Linked DNA regions of Homo sapiens. The protein of the gene in region 1 interacts with the protein of each later gene in a pairwise test. Each region holds a gene or a part of one and is shown on either strand. Other genes may lie near its edges. The genes, in order: M1AP, CWF19L2, OTX2, BAHD1 and OTX1.

Region 1 (4,237 bases):
TTTTTTGCGTCTATTGGGATGATCATATCATTTTTCTCATTTACTTTTTTAATGTGACGAATTACGTGATTGATATTCTAATGTTATATCAACCTTATGTTCTTGGGATAAACTCAACTTGGTCATGCTGTTTTTTTTTGTATATTATTAGTTTCAATTTCTCTATATTTTATTTAGAATTTTTACAAGTTTATGGGTGAGATTATCCTATAATTTTTTTCTTATTACACCTTTATCTGGTTTCACTTTCAAAGGTCGTGCTAACCTCGTAAAATTAATTGAGGAGGCCAGGTGCCGTGGCTCACGCCTGTAATCCCAGCACTTTGGGAGGCCGAGGCGGGCAGAAGTTCGAGACCAGCATGACCAACATGGAGAAACCCTGTCTCTACTAAAAATACAAAACTAGCCAGGCATGGTGGCACATGCCTGTAATCCCAGCTACTCAGGAGGCTGAGGCAGGAGAATCGCTTGAACCCGGGAGGCGGAGGTTGCAGCGAGCCAAGATCATGCCATTGCACTCCAGCCTGGGCAACAAGAGTGAAACTCCATCTAAAAAAAAAAAAAAAATTAGTTGAGGAGTGTATCCTGTTATATATGTTCTTCTGTTCTTAAAATAATTTGTTTAAGATTGAAATTCTTGGCTGGGCGCGGTGGCTCACACCTGTAATCCCAGCACTTCAGGAGGCCGAGGCAGGTGGATCACTTGAGCCCAGGAGTTTGAGACCATCTTGGGCAACATGGCAAGACCCCATCTCTACAAAAAAAAAAAAAAAGATTGAAATTCTTGGTCTTTGCATGTTTGATGGAGCTCATCAGTGAAATCATCTGACCCTCTTACTTGTGGGAAGATATTTGATTACCAATTACATTTCCTTAATGATTATAGACTATTTAGGTTTCTAAAATTTCTTTAGTATTGGTTAGATACATTTTTCTAGGAATTTGTCCACTTTATCAAACTTATTAGCATAAAGCTATTCATTATGTCCTCCTATAACCCTTTTCACGTTTGAGCATTTGTGATGATGTCCCTTTCTCATTCCTTATATTGGTTCTTTGTTCTCAATTGTTCTCACTTCCTAATCTGAGTCCTGGGGATAAGTATAAGTAGCCAGTAGAGAAAGAAGGCAGGAGTATTGGAGGCAGAGAAGCAGCATGAGCAAATGCACTAAAGTGAATATATTTGGTATTGTTTCCGTGAAAATCTTGAGGCGAAGAACAATTTCTAATGAGGCTAACAATTAAGTAATGACAGGTCTTAAAGACAGTTTAAATTTTACCTTATAAGAGATTCAGACAACCAAAGAATTTTAACCAAGGAGAAATGTAGTCATATTTTCATTTTTAAGAATTATTCGTTAGGTACTAAACACACATATGCTAGGCATTGATGAATAATATCAACAAGACAGGTTCTCTACCCTTGGGAAGCTTACAATATAGTGGGAGAGGCAGTCATAGAAACAAATTGTAATAGAGTGCAATAAATGCCAATAAAGAAACAAAGTTTATGAGGGCAGATAGCTTACTTTGAGACAGAAGCTTGAGTTTTTTGGTGTAACTTTTGATTAGTTCCACTCAGCATCTCTAAGCATTCTCAGGCTTACATGATAGGCAAACATCTAGATCTCTTGGGAGCTGTTAAAATAGGATGGCCTGGGCCAGGTACGGTGGCTCACGCCTGTAATTCCAGCACTTTGGGAGGCCAAGGCGGGCGGATCGTGAGGTCAAGAGATCAAGACCATCCTGGCCAACATGGTGAAACCCCATCTCTAAAAATACAAAAATTAGCTGGGCGTGGTGGTGTGCACCTGTAGTCCTAGCTACTCGGGAAGCTGAAGCAGGAGAATCGCTTGAACCTGGGAGACAGAGGTTGCAGTGAGCCAAGATCGCACCACTGCGCTCCAGCCTGGTGACATACCGAGACTCTGTCTCAAAAAAAAAAAAAAAATAGGATGGCCTGGACAAGCTTTAGTACCCAATCTGACTCCTTTCTGGATTTGTTTCCCTCGACTTGTATTTTATATTTCAACAGAGCACACATAATTCAGTTTGAAAACCAGTGGTTTCTCTTTCCTTCCCTATAGGTGTAAAGAATATCCAGCTGGTGGCTACAGTTCCCCCTCTGGTTTTGCTGCCATGCATCCTGGGCGAACTACTGGTAAAGGGCCCTCTACTCACACTCAGATTGACCAGCAACCTCCACGGCTTCTCATTGTGCACATTGCTCTACCGTCCTGGGCTGACATCTGCACCAACCTCTGTGAGGCTCTGCAGAACTTCTTCTCTCTAGCCTGCAGCTTGATGGGCCCCAGCCGCATGTCCCTGTTCAGTTTATACATGGTACAAGATCAGCATGAGTGCATCCTCCCTTTTGTGGTAAGTATATCTATATTTATTCATTTTACCCTGAAAGCAAATACAGTGGTAAGGTTTCTGGAATAGAGATCACAGTTATTAATACTTATAACAATAACCGCACTACTTCTCCACACACAGTAGCCCCCGAGTAACACCATGAGAGCCAGAGGGCATCCTGCATATATAGGGGTGTGTACTGTTGAAGAGAAAATCCAAAATTATTAATCTGGGAGTATAAATAGGCTACAAGCTCCACTCCAGAGAGAGGGAGAGAAACCTTGGCATTGACAGATGTTTGAAATGTAAACAACTGACTCCTTTTATGCCCTTTGAAATGTAAACACACAAGGAGGGAAGCCTCTAAATCTCTTCTGAGGTCTCTGACTATTCAATCATCTTTTAACTTCCAAGACTTGCCCTTTAACCCAGGTACCAGTTTTCTTTGCTCAGAAAGCCCTAACTATGCAAAAACATGAAAATATTTTTTCTACATTCCACATAGACTCAGGTGAAACTGCCCCCTAGGGTTATGGAAGGCAATGGCTGGGCCAGGGGCAGTGTCTTTACAAAGCTCCTTCATACATAAACAATTATCTATGCTCCTCCTCAAAATTTCAATCTTCCCTTTCTCCCTTGTATAAAATTCAGAATCATAGTGAAGAGAAAGACTTCCAGAGGTTCTATGCATCTCCTTCCTTGAGGTAGCCTTGCTGCTAATATACGTTATCAAATGGATATAAGTCTTATTTAAGATTTCCAAAAGAGGAAATTTCATAAATCCATTGCTGAATTATGAATGTAATATATGACTGAAATCTATTTTTTTATTAATGCCTTAGTTTCCCTCATTGGAAGTGGAAAGATAACATCTCTGTTGATACTATAAAGAATGAAAATAATATATATTACTTCATGCTTCTTGAGTTAGAACATACCCTGGTTGCTTTGACAGAACCTTAGGCTTATAACAACTCATGGTTTATTTCTTGACAAAAGTCACACAGGGAAAGTTTTGAGTATAAATGCTCCAGTGCTAAGTATGGGGATTTTGTCTGTGCATTGTTACTTAGGCTGGGTTGGGGATGGGAAAAGGATAAAATTATTTAAGAAATTCAACTGATCCTTTCTACAGTTTGAGCAGAATTTGGTACCTCTATTCATTGTTTATTGCTGTGTAACAAATTATCCCAAAATGTAGTGGTCTAAATTAATAAACATCATCTCATAGTTACTATGAGTTAGGAATTCATAAGTGGCTTAGGTAGATCAGGCTTGGGGTCCCTCATGAGATTGTAGCCAAGATGTCAGTCATCTGAAAGCTTGATTGAGGCTGGAGGATCCAGTTGCAAGATGGCGTATTCACTTAGCTGTTGGCAGAAATTCTTGTTTCCTGACCACTTGGATCTCTCCAAAGGGCTGCTTGAATGTCCTTAATTTGTGGCAGCGGGCTTCTCCCAGAACGACTGATCCAAAAGAGAGAGAGAGCAATGAAGAAGCCAAAATACCTTTTATGTCTTAGTCTCAAAAGTAACATGTTGTCACTTCCTCCACATTCTGTTCATTGGAAGCAAGTCACTGTTCCACCCTAGATAGAATAACAGCAAGCTGATTTACCCTCTTGCCTCAAACAATAAAAAAAAACTGGATAAAACCTATGAAAAACACTTTTCAAAACACTGGACATCACGCAGCAAAGAACAAAGCCCCCTGGGTGATAGGAAGTCAATGAGGTGAGACTTAGAATTGTTCCAGCTTGCAGATCACCTGAGGTCAGTAGTTCAAGACCAGCCTGGCCAACATGGTAAAACCCCACCTCTACAAAAATACAAAAATTATCCAGGCATGATGGCGGCTGCCTGTAATCCCAGCTACTCGG
Region 2 (4,237 bases), on another chromosome or scaffold:
TAATTTCTATTTTCTGTTTGTTTCCTCTGTCAGTCTGTCTTGAGGCTTATCAGTTTTATTAATCTTTCTTTATTGCCTTTTAGTTTCCTTGAATTTTCTCTGGTTGTGTGTTTTCTATTTCATTGATTTAAACTATATTTATTCTTTGCGAATACTTTGTGTTTAATTTGCTCTTCTTTTTCTAACTTTCTAAGATGAATGTATCGCCACTGATTTGAAATCTTTTCTAACGTGTATTTATTTTATAAAATTTTCTCATAGCACTGTTGTATCTCTACGTAACTTTGATGTTATATTTTCATTGCTGTCCCATTCAAAATATTTTTTACTTTACTTTTTCTTACTCATGGATATATAAGAGTTTTTAAACTTGCAGATATTTGTGGATTTTTCTAGTTTTTTTTTGGGTTATTGACTTTGATTTTAATTATTATGTTATACTCTGTATAATTTCAGTTTTTAAAAAGTTTTTGAGACATTTTATTTTCTAGCCTATGATCTATTTTGGTGAAAATTCCATATGTATTTGAAATGAGTATGTATTCTGCCATTGTTAGGTATAGTGTTTTATAAATGTCAATTAGGGAAAGTTGACTAATAGTATTAAGTTTAGTGTTAATGATTTTCTGTTCACCTGTTCAGTCAGTTACTGAGAAAATAGTATTGAAATCTCTTAATTGTTTTGTGGATTTTACCTATTTCTGCTTTCAGTTTTGTCAGTTTTTGCCTTATGTAATTTTGAAGCTTTATTAGGTACATAGACAGCTCCTTGATGAACTGACTGTTGTTACGAAGTTTTCGTTTTTATCTTTGGTAATACTCTTGTCTGAAGTCTCTTGTATCTCATATTAATAAAGCCTCTTCAGTTTTCTTTTTTTGTGTGTTTTCATCGTCTTTTTAAAATTCTTTTAGTTTTAATGTACCTTTTTTATATATTGAAAGTGTATTTCTTGTAAGCAGTGTATAATTGGGTCTTGCTTTTTTATCTCGCCTATCAATTTCTTCTTTTTTATTTTATTGATTGATTGATTTATTGATTGATTGACAGAGTCTTGCTTTGTTGCCCAGGCTAGAGTGTAGTAGATCACTGCAGCTTCAACCCCTGGGGCTCAAGTGACTCTCCCACCTCAGCCTCTTGAAAGCTGGGACTACGGGTGTGCACTTCGACGTCCAGGATATATATATATGAGTTTTTAAATTTCCAGATATTTGTGGATTTTATTAGGTTTTTTTGGTTATTGACTTTGGATTTAATTATTATTTTATTGTACTCTGTATAATTTCAGTTGTTAAAAAGTTTTTGAGACATTTTATATTCTAGCCTATGATCTATATATATTTTGTAGAGATGTGGTTTTGCCATGTTGCCCAGCCTGGTCTCAAAGTCTTGACCTTAAGCAATCCTCCCACCTGGGACTCCCAAAGTGCTGGAATTACAAATGTGAGCCACTGCATCTGGCCTCTTCCTTTTTTTTTTTTTTCTTGAGATGGAGTCTCACACTGTCACCCAGGCTGGAGTGCAGTGCCGCAATCTTGGCTCACGTCTCTTACTTTTCAATTAGATGTTTTTTGTGCTCTCTAATCTGTTAGCTGTTTATGGCTTTTAAATTTTTTGTTAAAATTCATTAAAATTATATCAGCCAAATTTATGTGGCTACTATATTCGACAGTATATAGAAAAATTCTTTGAATAGTACTGGTTTGGATTATTTATGTTTAATGTAATAATTGATATGGATGAGTTTAAGTCTACCATGTTGTTATTCCTTTTCTATTTTTTCTTTGTTCTTTTTTCCTTTGTTCCTTCCTTTTCCTGTCTTTTGGATCGAGTGTTTTTTAGCATCCCATTTCATCTGCTGTAGGCTTATTAGGTATACCTTATTTATTTTTAATGACTGCTTTAAGTCTTATGCATATTTTAACTTACCATACTCTCAAATAATATATAATTTTACTTTTATAATTAGACTTTCACCAAAATATACTTCCATTTTCTCCTACCATATTTTTTGCTATTGTTGTCATATATTTTACTTCTACATATGTTATAAACCCACATTGTTTATAATTTTTAATGTCATACATTCTTTTTATTTATACTTTAGTCAGTTATCTTTTAAATAAGTTACACATATGAAGAAAGTCTTTTATATTTACCCACAGATTTATCATCTCTGATATTCTTTATTATTTTATGTAGGTCTGAATTTCTGTCTAATACCATTTTCCTTTTGTCTGTAGAACTTTCATTAACATGTATTATAATATGGATTTGCAGACATTGTATTCTCTCAGCTTTTGTTTGAAAATTTCTTTTATTTCATCTTCATTCTTTTTTTCTTTTACCACAAACTCAGAAGTTCCTACTAGCAATCTTCATTTTTCAGATACTTGGCTAGATAAAGAATTTTAAGTTTATAGTGTTTTCTTTTTTTTTTTTTTTTTGCACTGTAAAATGTCATCCCATTGTCTTCTGGTTTGCATTGTACATATTGAGAACTCTGTAGTCATTGTAATATTTTTTCTCTGTATGTAGTGTGCCTTTTTATTCTGGATGCTTTTAGGGCTTTTTTTTTCATCATTATTTTTCAGTGAATCAATTGTGATATGTCTTGGTATTGATTTCTTTGTGTTTATTCTACTGTCTTAGTTCATTTGGGCTGCTATACCAAAACTAACTGGGTGGATTATAAATGACAGAAACTTATTTCTCACAGTTTGGGAGGCTAGAAAGTCTAAGATCGAGGCGCTGGTAGACTTTGTGTCTGATGAGGGTTCAGTTCCTCAGAGATGGCTGTCTTCTCACTCTAACCTCATATGGCAGAAGGGAGTGCTCTTGGGCTATGTTTTATAAGGGCACTAATCCCATTCCCAGTCATCTCCCAAAGGCCTCAGCCCCTATTATCATTGTCTTGGGAGTCAGGATCTCAACATAAGAATTTGGTGGGGGACACAAACATTCAGAGTGTAGCATCTGCCTTAGGTTCATTGTGCTGCTTTGATTTGTGAGTTTACAGTTTCCATCAAATATGAAACTTTCAGGCTTTTTTCGAAGTATTTTTTTTTTCTGTTCCCTCTCATTTTGGTAGTCTCCTTAAAATAATGTCTCACAGGTTGATGAGCCTGTGTTCACTTACTTTCTAGCCTTTTTCCTTTCTATGCCTTGGGTTGGGTATATTTTATTGCTATGTCGTGAGCTTCAGGTTTACTGGCCTTTTTTTTTTTTTTTTTTTTTTTTTGTGACGGAGTCTCGCTCTGTTGCCAGGCGGGAGTGCAGTGGCGTGATCTCAGCTCACTGCAACCTCCGCCTCCTGGGTTGAAGTGATTCTCGTCCCTCAGCCTCCTGAGTAGTTGGGATTACAGGTGCTCATCACCACGTCCAGCTAATTGTTTGTATTTTTAGTGGAGATGGGGTTTCACCATGTTGGCCAGGATGGTCTGGATCTCCTGACCTCGTGATCTGCCTGCCTCAGCCTCCCAAAGTGCTGGGATTACAGGTGTGAGCCACTGCGCCTGGCCGACTGGCCTTTTCTTTTGCTGTGTCTAGCTTACTGTTATCCCTATCCAGTGACATTTTCATTTCAGGTACTGTATTTTTTTTTTATCATTAGATGTTTCGTTTGGATCTTTCTAATGTTTTTCAGTTTATCTCCTCATTATCTTTACATTTTCCCTTCCTTGAACATATTTATGATAGCTGTGTTAAAGTCTTGGTTTGCTGTTTCATTTTCTCTTGTTTTTTCCTGTTCTGTTTCAATTAAATGATTTTTCTCTTGAATATGGGTCACATTTGCTTGCTTCTTTGAATGTCTAGTAACTTTTAATTGGATGCTGAACCCTATGAAACTTATATTGTGACTGCTGGATTTTGTTGACTTCTTCAGAGAGTATTGAGTTTCCTTTTGGCATACAGTTAATTACTTGTGAATTAGCTTAATCCTTTTCAAGGATTGTTTTTAAGTTTTGTTCGTATGCACCTAGAATAGCTTTACTCTAGGACTGGTTTAGCCTTTCTACTAAGGCATGACCTTTGTGGGTTCTCTGCTGATTGTCATGGATGTTCAGCGAGGTTTCTTTATTCTGGTTGGGAGGAACTAGAATGTCTTCCAGCCCTTTGTGAGCTCTGGGGATTGTTCTGCTTACAGCTCTTTGGTAATTGTTTTCTCCATGGTAATTTTTCTTTGCCTGACCTTGTGGACTCTCATCCTCAGCATGTTCAGCTTGGTCTTTCTTTAAA
Region 3 (4,237 bases), on another chromosome or scaffold:
ACTCGCGCCCGGAGGTGCGGTCGCCGACCGGCTGCCGGAACTCGCCGCGCGACCGCGGTCAGCTTCTAGGTATGAGTTCTCCAGAGGCCACCTCGTGAGCAGTCATAGTGAGGCGTGGATTTTTCAAAAGTTATTTCTTTTCCCCGTTCTGGACCCTGCTTCGAGAGGAAAAGAGCTTTGAAAGTTAGATTGAAGGGCCCATGCCTTCTATGCAGAGTGCATACCTAGGCCGGTTGTGGAGAGAATCTCTTAGTTTTGGGTTTTGGTTTTCCTCTTTTCCTTTTAAAGGTGGATCCAGGAGCAAAAGTGAAAATAGTCTATTTTGAGAATTTTAGCCATTTTGCAATGGTAAGGGCAAAGGAGCCCCTGGAAGGATCTCGGCCCTGGTGCTTTCTGTGTGTTACTGGCTTTTTATGTTGGAATGTGCTACTTTATTGTATGATGTGTCAGGCATTTCTAATTGGGTGAGAGCTCTACATGTAAGAACATTTCCATATTTCTCAAGGGTACATCTGATATGATTTTACGATTCTCTATAGCACTGTAGTTCAGAATTTTGCAAGGTAGTACGATTAAACAAAAAATCTCCAATCTCCAGTTTAGAGGCTGTTTAAACACATATACAACTGTATTTTAAAGCTGTCGCATATGTGTTTAAACAGCCTCTAAGCTGGAGATTTTTGTTTATTTTCGCAGCCTCCAAAGAACAGCATTTTGAAAAGAAAAGACAATACAAAAACATAAAGTCTGTATTGTAGGGGCAACTAAATTAGTTGTACTGAGGATAATACAAACTCCTCCAAGAAAGACATTTATAAAATTATATTAAGTTAGATCTTAGGGTAGAAAAGCATGACTTTTGTGCTCTGAATTTAAATCAGAAAGAAGTTGCAGTTACTAAGTTTCATTTATGGACTTTTGTGCCTTGCTGTCTTAAGCAACGTAAATATGAAAACCCGGAGTCCTTTAAAGTCAGTGAGACCTTTATCTTGTATCCGCCATTTTGAAGCAATCTCTCATGGTGTCAAAGTTTCAAAGTAGAGATCCTTGCATATAAGTGCCACATTTTAGGAAAATAAAGGCCAGACTTGCAAACTGCCAGTCTATATTAACATCTACTTTGAATCTCTTTGCTGGGGTGGAGGCGGGGAGCTCAGCTGAAGAAAGTAAATAACTTTTCTTTTTCTTCCTTTCTTTTCCCCCTTGAGCTCTTTTTCTTATAGGATTGTAGGAAACTTGAAAGGTAGGGAGAAATTCTACTAGTTTCACAACTTTGGGTGTTTGTGTATCTACTTTCTTCAAAACTAAAATGTGCAAAAGGCAGTTAGAGTTAACAGGAAACTCTGCTGCAGCTGCCGAGGACCCAAATGTCTGAAAATTTGCCTCCCGCAGGATCTGCAGCCTCCACACATCAAAATCAACATGGAAGCAGCTTGCACTACAAATGTGGGGTCCCGTCATTATCTGATTGGTGGGATTCTAACTTTACTTCACAATTTCTGGCAAGCCCTGTGCCAATCTTGAAGACTTTTTTGGAATATGCTTAAATATTTGATGGGTGTCTATTAAAAGTTAAATACTTGTTTGTTTAGCTTTCGTTCCTTAGACACATATAATCAAGATTCTCCAAAACCCTAATAAATCTGTTACTTACCTCGAAATCTAATTACCCAGACTACTAATTAGGTGAAAATGATTACCGGAAATGACTTCAAATGTGGAATAATAGTGGTTGAGCGGTTTTTCCAAGTTTGTGGTTTAGTGAGTTGGTATTTTAGATGTTAAACGCACTGACATTTTAGGTTCGCAGCAGTTGAAAGTGGTAAAAAGCTAAGATAATTAAAATCTCTGCCATGGAAAGGCAACAGTCTGGGGAGAGGTAGATTTCTTGAATTGTTTCTTTGTTTCTCACCAATGGGCTTTGTTATCAGCATTATTTATTTAGCCAAAGAGTTCTTTGTCTCTGCAAATGGCCCCAATCAAGTTTTGTTTGAGACAATTAGCTAGTGCCAGCCAATGAGTCCTATGCAAATGTAGGGATAGGAATGCAATGTGTGCATTTGAAGGCACGGGTTTTTGTTCTTGGGGAAGGCAGATTGTAATTGCTTTCTTCGGGTACTTTTTTTTTTTTTTTAAGTTTAGGGTGGGGGTGGGGAAGACAGGTTTATCTGGTCTCCTTCCATCCCCTCTAGTTCCAGAGCAGCTGGGGGTGGGGGTGGGGATGGGGGTGGGGGGAGTGTCTGCAAGTCCTTTAAAAGCCTCTGCCTCGCCTAGTCCGTGCTCTTTTTAAGTTAGTGCTGGAACGTGGAAGAGCTGCTGCCTCCGAAGCAGTAAACCAGCCCCTCTGTTTGTTTGTTTGCTTTGCCCTTAGTTCCACTGCTCCAAACCCACCCACCAAGGACTCTGAACCTGTCCACCCCGGGCGCATCAAGATCTTCCAGCTGGGTACCCCCGATTTGGGCCGACTTTGCACCTCCAAACAACCTTAGCATGATGTCTTATCTTAAGCAACCGCCTTACGCAGTCAATGGGCTGAGTCTGACCACTTCGGGTATGGACTTGCTGCACCCCTCCGTGGGCTACCCGGGTAAGTGAGCCCTGCTGCACTCCCGCACCCCTCTTCCCCATGCCCACCCTCCGGGGATGCAACACCCTGTTCCCATGGAACACGGGGGTTGGCAGTCACACTGTCCCCACCCAGCTTCAGGCTTGGTCTCCTCTAGGTTTGCCTTCTGAGGAAGCAGTCCCAGGGCATTTACTGACCAAGCAGAGAACAGGGGTTGGGAAAAGTGAGTAGGTGGGTCTGCAACCGTTACAATCACATCACTTTATTCTTAATTCGAGTAAATAAGGATTGGCATCAGAGTGGGATGAGGAAGGTTACTGTCCTTGTCATTTGGGCAAAAGACCCCTACCCATATCTCAATGACCAATTCCTCAGAAGTGTCCTCTTGGAGAAGCTGAGTTTTCCCTCCGTAAGTCCTTAGCACTCTCGGGCTTCGCAGTTGTTCCCTCCATGCCCAGGCCTTCCCCTATGACCTCCAGAGCCTGCTTTAATCCCAAGAGGCGTGACTTCCTCCAAATGCGGGTGCTTTCCTTTCCAATCAGATATGTTTAAAAATCCTCCCAGGAGTATGAACTATGTCCCCATTTTAAAGATGGAGGAACAAAGGCCCATGGTGTGCTAAAAACCATGGGAACAGGATCCAGATTTCCCCCATCAATTCGAGCTGCCAGTCTGTCCTCGGAGATCCTTTGACTTCTTGGAATAGCCTTTTTGTGTTGTGGTTTGGGGGTTGATCTTGGAGAACTTTTTTGTGTGTCTTTTAAAAAATGTTTCATTTGTTAACTTTCCAAGTGATGCTCTGATTGGAGCAATCTCAACACCAAGAAGAGTAGGGAAAGAAGCAGCGTGTGTCCTGGGTCCCCGGGGAGCAAGGCTGGGGAGACGGTGGGGAGAGCATTGGTAGGCTCCCGGCTGAAGGGCTGTGAGGAACGGGGGACTGCTGCGGGGTGGAGGGCAGGGGCGTCGGAGAACCCGCGGAAACGCCTATGACTGAGAAACTGCTCCCCCACCCTAAAGGGCCCTGGGCTTCTTGTCCCGCAGCCACCCCCCGGAAACAGCGCCGGGAGAGGACGACGTTCACTCGGGCGCAGCTAGATGTGCTGGAAGCACTGTTTGCCAAGACCCGGTACCCAGACATCTTCATGCGAGAGGAGGTGGCACTGAAAATCAACTTGCCCGAGTCGAGGGTGCAGGTAGGGCAGATGCAGGCAGAACCATCCTTCCTGATCATGCCACCCTTCCCGAGTATGGGACTGTGGAGAGCCCCAGGTCTTTCAGAGGACTGAAGGAAGGCTTGAAATTCTCCTTCACTCACTAAGGGGCCAGGAAACTATTCTCCTTCTGCCCTTTTTTGCCTGCCCGTCACCACTTAATCCCGTAAGCAAGGGTCTTCAAGGCCCGGGTTGCTGGTGGAGAGAGACCCATCCTTGAGCAGGTTTCAAGAGTAGTCACGTGGTGTTGTAACCCTTCCCTTCCTCTGTATAGAAATCCTCTCCTATTCTCATGGACTTGTACGTGTGAAAGCAGCTTAGCTCTTGGACAGTCCAAGTATTTTTACAGATGAAAAAATAGAGTAAATGACTTGCTCAAGGTCATAACTAAGTTTGGTGGCAGAGTCAGGGTATAGACGCAGCTGGTGCTTTTACCAAATAAATCAACACAAAAAGAATG
Region 4 (4,237 bases), on another chromosome or scaffold:
TTCTTAACTATAAAATGGGTGTAATGATACCTATCTCACAGGGTTTTTGTAAGGATGAAATGAGTTAATGTGTTCGTAAGAAAACCAGCCAGTTGCTCTGAGGGGCAGAGTGACTTGCCTGAAGTCACATGGCTAGTAAGTGGCAGAACCCAGGCTGATTCTAGAACCCCTATTCCCAAGCATTATGAAAGCCTTAGAAAATTAATATCAGGGCCAGGCGCGGTGGCTCATGCCTGTAATCCTAGCACTTTGGGAGGCTGAGGCGGGCAGATTGCCTGAGCTCAGTAGGTTGAGACCAGCCTGTCTAACATGGTGAAACCCTATCTCTACTAAACATACAAAAAAATTAGCTGGGTGTGGTGATGGGCACCTGTAATCCCAGCTACTCAGGAGGCTGAGGCAGGAGAAATGCTTGAACCCGAGAGGCGGAGGTTGCAGTGAGCCAAGATAGCACCACTGCACTCTAGCCTGGGCAACAGAGCGAGACTCTGTCTCAAAAAAAAAAAAAGTTCGGAGTTAAAAAGGATGTTCCAACCACCTCTCTTTCAGACTAAAAGGGGAGATGGCCAATCTCCAAGATCAGGAAACACCCCTGTCCCCTTAGAGAGTCACTCTGACAGTCCACCATAAAAAGGCCTCTGATCCCATCGGCCACCTCAGTGGCCTTTGGTTGCACAGTTAGAATTAAGACAGGAGCAGGCTCTGAAAGCAGATGGGTGATGGGGGTCACTGCTTGTCCTGTCCTGACCACTCTCTCCCTTTCCTAGAAGGCTGCAGATCCCTGGGCCAGTTGGAATTTCCTCTCCCGGAAGCTGGCCACCCAGCCTCACCCGCCCACCCACTCCTGGGGTGCCCTGTACCCAGTGTGCCACCTGCAGCAGAGCCCGTCCCCCATCTTCAGACACCCACCTCGGAGCCCCAGACAGTAGCCCGTGCGTGCCCTCAGAGCGCCAAACCTCCCAGCGGTTCTAAGTCAGGTCTGCGCACAGGCTCCAGCTGCAGGCACACTGCAAGGAGCAAGGCTGCCCGCAGGCCTAGCCACCCCAAGCAGCCACGTGTCCAGCGCCCACGCCCTCGCCGCCGCCGTCGCCGCCGCACTAATGGCTGGGTACCTGTTGGGGCTGCGTGTGAGAAGGCTGTGTATGTCTTGGTAAGTGCTAGCTCTTAGCTGATGACGAGAGGGAGGGAGGCAGTGGGGACACATGACCTGCAGTGAGGTAGGTGCTAGAAGCACCTGGTTCTAGCTACTCTGAGAGCTGACAAGGGACTCCAGTTTACTTGTACCCCAGGAACCAGTCATGCTGGCCCACCCAGCTTGCTTCCCTAGCCCCCTACTGATCCTGTACCAGACACCCCAGGGAGGTCAGGAGACACACAGTCATAGCTGGTGGCTGCCATCTCGGTGAGTGTCTTCCCCTCCCCTCCCTGCTCACTTTGTCCCTTACACCCTGGATTGTAAAGTGGAGGACTTTCAATGGAGAACTTTTCTGGATAAGTCTATATAGGGGGCGTTGGAATGGGCAGAGAAAATTAGTGACACAGAGAACATCTCGGATGATGAAAAGAGGCCAAGTGCGGTGGCTCACATCTGTAATCCCAGTACTTTAGGTGGTGGAAGTGGTAAGATCGCATGAGGCCAGGAGTTCAAGACGAGCCTGAGCAATATAGACCTCATCTCTACAAAGTAAAAACATTAGTTAGCCAGGCATGGTGGTGTGCACCAGGAGGCTGAAGTGGGAGGATTGCTTAGGTCCAGGAGTTCAAGGCTGCAGTGAGCTGATTGCACCACTGCACTCCAGTCTGGGTGACAGAGAGACCCTGGCTTTTAAAATTAATTAATTAAAAACAAAAAGAATATTAACTAAAATTTATTGAGGCTGGGCAAGGTGGCTCATGCATATAATCCCAGAGCTTTCAGAGGCTGATGCTAGAGGATTGTTTGAGCTCAGGAGTTCAAGACCAACCTGGTCGACATAGCAAGATCCTGTCTACAGAAAAAAAATTTTTTTAATTAGCCAGGCATGGTAGCATGCATCTGTAGTCCCAGCTACTTGAGAGTCTGAGGCAGGAGGATCACTTGAGTCCAGGAGGTTGAGGCTGCAGTGAACTATGGTTGCACCACTGCATTCCAGCCTGGGTGACAGAGTGAGACCCTGTCTCTAAAAATAAATAAATACATAAATACATAAAATTTATTGAGCACTTCTTAGATGCCAGAACTGAGCTAAGCATTTTGTAAGTATTATGCCCTTTAATCCTCACCACTACCCTATGTGGTATATATCCCATCTTCCTATAATTAATCCCATTTTACAGATGTGGAAGCTGAGGCTTAGCAATACTTTAAATAATTTGTCAAAGGCTGTGCCCCTTATAACAGTGGTTTAAGGGTTCAGACCGAGACTTGTTCCATTAGGAAGCATGAGCACTTACCCAGCACTGGGGGTCTTGGAGTGAGAGTCAGCTGTCGGGTATGGTGGTCAGAGCTCAGCCCCAGAAGCTTCAGGCCACTTTTCCACCCCTATTCCCTTTTCTCATCCTTTCTCCAACCATGAGAATTCCCCAGCCCCATCCAAAAAAGGATAGTGGTTTGACAAAACCAAGGTAGTGGTTTGACTATCTTGAGGAAATCGTGGAAAGGATGTCATTCCCTCTCTCTGTCCTTACTCTGAGTGTGGCTCTGCAAGCCTATTTGTGTCATTGGTTTGTTGCCTAGGATGAGCCGGAGCCAGCCATCCGAAAGAGCTACCAGGCGGTAGAGCGGCATGGGGAGACAATCCGAGTCCGGGACACCGTCCTTCTCAAATCAGGCCCACGAAAGACCTCCACACCTTATGTGGCCAAGATCTCTGCCCTCTGGGAGAACCCCGAGTCAGGTACCTCTCCCTCTGGCTGGGGACCCAAGGGGCAGCTGCCTTCAGCAGAACTGTAGTCCCCAGATTGGCCCCTGCCTGGAGTTTGACCTGGCGTGAGTCTCCCCGTGTTCCTGGCACAGAGTCTGCCTTCCACTCGGCTGGGGTCTCTCTGCTGCCGAGGGCTGTGGGTGACCTTGTGGCTTGGGTTGGATCAGCTCATTAACCTTTCCAGCCAGCAGAGCCTGGGCACCTGTCCCCCCACCTCACCTGTCAGTGCCTTCTCCCCCTTCTCCCTCCATGCCTAACAGCATTCCAGGCCTCTGAATGCTTGGCCTGGGGCAGGGGACATGGGTTGCCGGAGCCTGCAGGATTGAGGTTGGATGAACCTCCAGGGCAGCCAGCCAGCCTCTCTGCCTGTCTAAGTAACTCAGGTTGCCAGTTCAAGCCATAACCACTGTGTTGTCCTTCCAGGAGAGCTGATGATGAGCCTCCTGTGGTATTACAGACCTGAGCACTTACAGGGAGGCCGCAGTCCCAGCATGCACGAGGTGAGCTGCCTGGCAGATGGGTCAGGGAGGGCAGGAGAGACAGAGGGAAAGGTTATGGCACTAAGACGTGGTAGGGGGAGGGCAGCCATGGGCTGTAGTCAAATCCCTGCGCTTGTCACTTTGGACTCCAGAGAACCTGGGAAAGGGCCCAGGATTTATTCTCTTTTCCCAACACTGCCCCAATTCATGTTTCAAAGGGAATAATAACCTTTGTCTTAAAAAGAGGAACAGAAAGGGAACCCTTGAGGTAGCAGGTGCCAATGGGAGCAAGTGGATGTGTTCCCCTGGAAACAGGAAAGGTGAGGTGGAGCTGCATACCTGGTCACTTTTGGTATTTTCTGTAGTAGGGGAGGGGAGGGGAGGAAAGACTCCTCCTAACACCCCATAGGCTCTCCACCAAGCTGTGTGCTAAAAGAGGTGACTGCCATCTGTGTGTGCCCTGGGCTCACCTTTTATTTCACTTTCCCTTGCAGGGACTTTCCATCTAACTGGAAAGATGAAGAACATTTCCCCTCTCCTACGCTAGGCAGGGCTGGGGTTTGGGAGGTCAGTGACAATCAGGGGCTAGAGCAGATACCTGGCTATTCTGGAGAAGGGGGGGACCTAGAAGGGACTCAGGAGGAATGCCTGGAGGCAGTAGGTGAGGCATACTTAGGCTGAATTTCCAGGGAAGCTTGCTGGAGTCATCTCAGGTCAGCAGGCCCAGCAGAGGGGTTAATGTCTGCCTTGCTCTGGGAATGAGGTGCTTTCCAGCCCTGGTAACAACCTCCACCTGTCTCCCTTTGAGCCCTTGCAGAATGAAGTGTTTGCATCGCGACATCAGGACCAGAACAG
Region 5 (2,988 bases), about 12 Mb from region 1:
TGCGGGAGAGCTCGGGCTCCGAAAGCAGTGGCCAATTCACGCCGCCAGCTGTGTCCAGCTCTGCCTCGTCCTCTAGCTCGGCGTCCAGCTCTTCCGCCAACCCAGCGGCTGCAGCGGCTGCGGGACTAGGTGGGAACCCGGTGGCGGCCGCGTCGTCGCTGAGTACACCAGCTGCCTCATCTATCTGGAGCCCGGCCTCCATCTCGCCAGGCTCAGCGCCCGCGTCCGTGTCGGTGCCGGAGCCATTGGCCGCGCCTAGCAACACCTCGTGTATGCAGCGCTCCGTAGCTGCAGGCGCCGCCACCGCAGCAGCCTCTTATCCCATGTCCTACGGCCAGGGCGGCAGCTACGGCCAAGGCTACCCTACGCCCTCCTCTTCCTACTTTGGCGGCGTGGACTGCAGCTCATACCTAGCGCCCATGCACTCACATCACCACCCGCACCAGCTCAGCCCCATGGCACCCTCCTCCATGGCGGGCCACCATCATCACCACCCACATGCGCACCACCCGTTGAGCCAGTCCTCAGGCCACCACCACCACCATCACCACCACCACCACCAAGGCTACGGTGGCTCTGGGCTTGCCTTCAACTCTGCCGACTGCTTGGATTACAAGGAGCCTGGCGCCGCTGCTGCTTCCTCCGCCTGGAAACTCAACTTCAACTCCCCCGACTGTCTGGACTATAAGGACCAAGCCTCATGGCGGTTCCAGGTCTTGTGAGCCCAGGAATGAAAGAGGAGAAGAAACGCAACTACCTGCGCCCTCCGTGGTCCCGATCCTGTTGCTGCTGCTGCACCGCCCGCCTTTGCCTCGTCTTCTCCAAAACTGAATTTTCACCCCCCAAAAAGATGTCCATTGCCTGCACTGCCGCCCCCATTTTTGTGCCACTTGCTTGGGGGGATGTGCAAACCCACCCTGCCCCTTGGATGGGGGGACCGGTGCTTCGGCTTGGCCTACACATTCTATACAGGAGAGATGTATTATTTCCCCCCTTCAGCCCCTACTAAACTCTTAAGCCTCCCCTTCCAGTCTTTCTGGACAGCTATTAAGCACTTGCAGCCTTCGGAGGCTCTGCGCTCTGATCCGCTGTTTGAGCCCAACACTTTAATTTATTCTTTCTGGACACTGGAGTCACTAACTGGCGTGTTTCTGCCCATTGGAGCACCCGCACACTACTCCAAATCAAAACCACTAAGAGTTCCTCCCGCGCAGACTGCTGCCCCTTCAGCTGCCCTCGATTTTGCTCCACGCCTGCCGGCCAGAGCCTCCCGGCGTTTCTTCCGCCCCAGCGGAGTGCGCTGGGGCGCGCCAGGGCTAGGCCCGCCGGAGGAGCGCGTCCCCAGCCTTCCGCGCACAGAGCCGCATCCCGCCCCGCCCTGCGCTGGACTGGTTCAAGCTTCCGCCTCGGCGGGAACGCTGTACATAGTCAGGTCCGTTCCAGGGACCACTTAAACTTTTTAGTTGCTGTTGGTTGGTTGAACTGAACATATCTTGTCTTAGCACCCAGGAAACAGAACTTTAAGATATATACAGCACATATATATATATATACATATATATATACACATATATAAAAAACAAAAGCAAAAAATATTTTCCCTCTGTCCGTCCCCCTTCTGCTCTTCCTCAATCAATGGCGCTTTTTCTTTTTCAGTTGTTGCAAAGCTGCCCTGCCCTCTTCACATCTTCTCCCTCTGTGTATTTATTGAAGAGAACCGCTTGGTTTCAGGAAGCTGGGCGCGGGATATCCGAAGTGTGGAGGAAACAGACAAGTCAGGGTACAGAGGTGGGGGTTGGGCAGGGGCGCAGGGCTGACCCCCTCACCCGGTCTAAGCACAGGGTCGCAGTTCCAGTTTACAAACCTAAAACAAGAAAACCAAAACCAGGGAACAAAACAACAAAACAAAACAAAATCCGTAAAAGTACAGCATTAGGGAAAAACAAACAAACCCAGGCCCCAAACCCAGTTCCAACTCCTCTGTCGGCTTCTCTCTTTCAACACCCTTGTTTTGTCTAGTGAGTTTTTAGTGCACCTTCGTTCTCCGAAATCTGCGGAGAGCCCGCGCGCCTGTGTATCAATTTTGGCTTTGGCCGCTTCGTCCAGTAGGTGGGAAAGTAATTTGTAAATTTGATTTGTCTGATGTGAAGATCACAAATTACTTGTTGAAATGTAAGGCAGTCCCCCTCCTCCTCTTTATCTACATTACTTCCCGAAAATAAATGCAAATTAATGAACGGCTTGTCAGTGTTGCTCTTCTGATTCCAGCCCGAGGTCCTGGTCTCGGGGGGCTAAAAGCGAGGGAAACTCCGTGTTAATAACCCGCGTGTTAATGACCTGCGTGAAGCTGGAGGCCAAAGGATGAGGCGGGAGGACTTGGCAAGAGAAGTCCCCAGAAACTTTCGCTTAGGGAGTGTCTCCCCCCACCCCCACCACGCCCCTCCGCGTCAGCCTGGCCTCTTCCCCCAGGCGTTTTGACCCCGCATCCCCCCTCGCCATCCAGGACAGAGACAGGTGTCAGGACTCAATTCCCGAAGCAATTCCTTTCTCTTCAGAGGCAGGAGCCTGGCACTGATTTCTTCACCCTAATTGCCTGCACCAGAAAGAAGAGGGGGAGGGGAAGAGGGTCGGGAGGCGGGAAAGGATAGCTCTGTAATGCTCTCAGAGCTGAGCCAAAAAGGAAAAGAAAGCAAAACGACAAAAAACTGATCCGTGTCCTGCATGTTGGCAGCAGACAACCTTCCTTGCTGCTGAGCTGTCCCGGGTGGCTTCACCGCGGCTGGGGAATCCGAGCCATTCCTTCCACGTGCTAAGATGTCCCTCTAAGCCCTCAGCTCCTGCCAGAAGTAGCCAAATTACCTTTCTTCGTACTGTAAACTTCCTTTAAAACATACAAACTCATAACCTGGAAAAGTCGACAAGGACGCCTTTCACTTTGGCAGGGGAAGAAGACGACTGGCTTGCATCTGGGGGTCAGGAAGGACAGTT

What was found.
Region 2: the proteins of M1AP (region 1) and CWF19L2 interact in binary tests that used the Homo sapiens proteins (3 or more experiments, as listed by UniProt).
Region 3: the proteins of M1AP (region 1) and OTX2 interact in binary tests that used the Homo sapiens proteins (3 or more experiments, as listed by UniProt).
Region 4: the proteins of M1AP (region 1) and BAHD1 interact in binary tests that used the Homo sapiens proteins (3 or more experiments, as listed by UniProt).
Region 5: the proteins of M1AP (region 1) and OTX1 interact in binary tests that used the Homo sapiens proteins (3 or more experiments, as listed by UniProt).

What each region holds. Positions count from the first base shown.
Region 1 is NC_000002.12:74,638,178-74,642,414, reverse strand, and holds part of M1AP (meiosis 1 arrest protein), read left to right. Parts: intron 1-2,087; coding exon of another isoform or gene 2,088-2,139; coding exon 2,140-2,379; intron 2,380-4,237. UniProt on the Homo sapiens protein: Required for meiosis I progression during spermatogenesis.
Region 2 is NC_000011.10:107,447,346-107,451,582, reverse strand, and holds part of CWF19L2 (CWF19-like protein 2), read left to right. Parts: intron 1-4,237.
Region 3 is NC_000014.9:56,803,710-56,807,946, reverse strand, and holds part of OTX2 (homeobox protein OTX2), read left to right. Parts: intron 1-2,279; exon of another isoform or gene 2,280-2,371; 5' UTR 2,372-2,490; coding exon 2,491-2,587; intron 2,588-3,583; coding exon 3,584-3,759; intron 3,760-4,237. UniProt on the Homo sapiens protein: Transcription factor probably involved in the development of the brain and the sense organs. Can bind to the bicoid/BCD target sequence (BTS): 5'-TCTAATCCC-3'.
Region 4 is NC_000015.10:40,461,145-40,465,381, forward strand, and holds part of BAHD1 (bromo adjacent homology domain-containing 1 protein), read left to right. Parts: intron 1-767; coding exon 768-1,150; intron 1,151-2,716; coding exon 2,717-2,876; intron 2,877-3,326; coding exon 3,327-3,403; intron 3,404-4,190; coding exon 4,191-4,237.
Region 5 is NC_000002.12:63,055,595-63,058,582, forward strand, and holds the end of OTX1 (homeobox protein OTX1), read left to right. Parts: coding exon 1-722; 3' UTR 723-2,237; downstream 2,238-2,988. UniProt on the Homo sapiens protein: Probably plays a role in the development of the brain and the sense organs. Can bind to the BCD target sequence (BTS): 5'-TCTAATCCC-3'.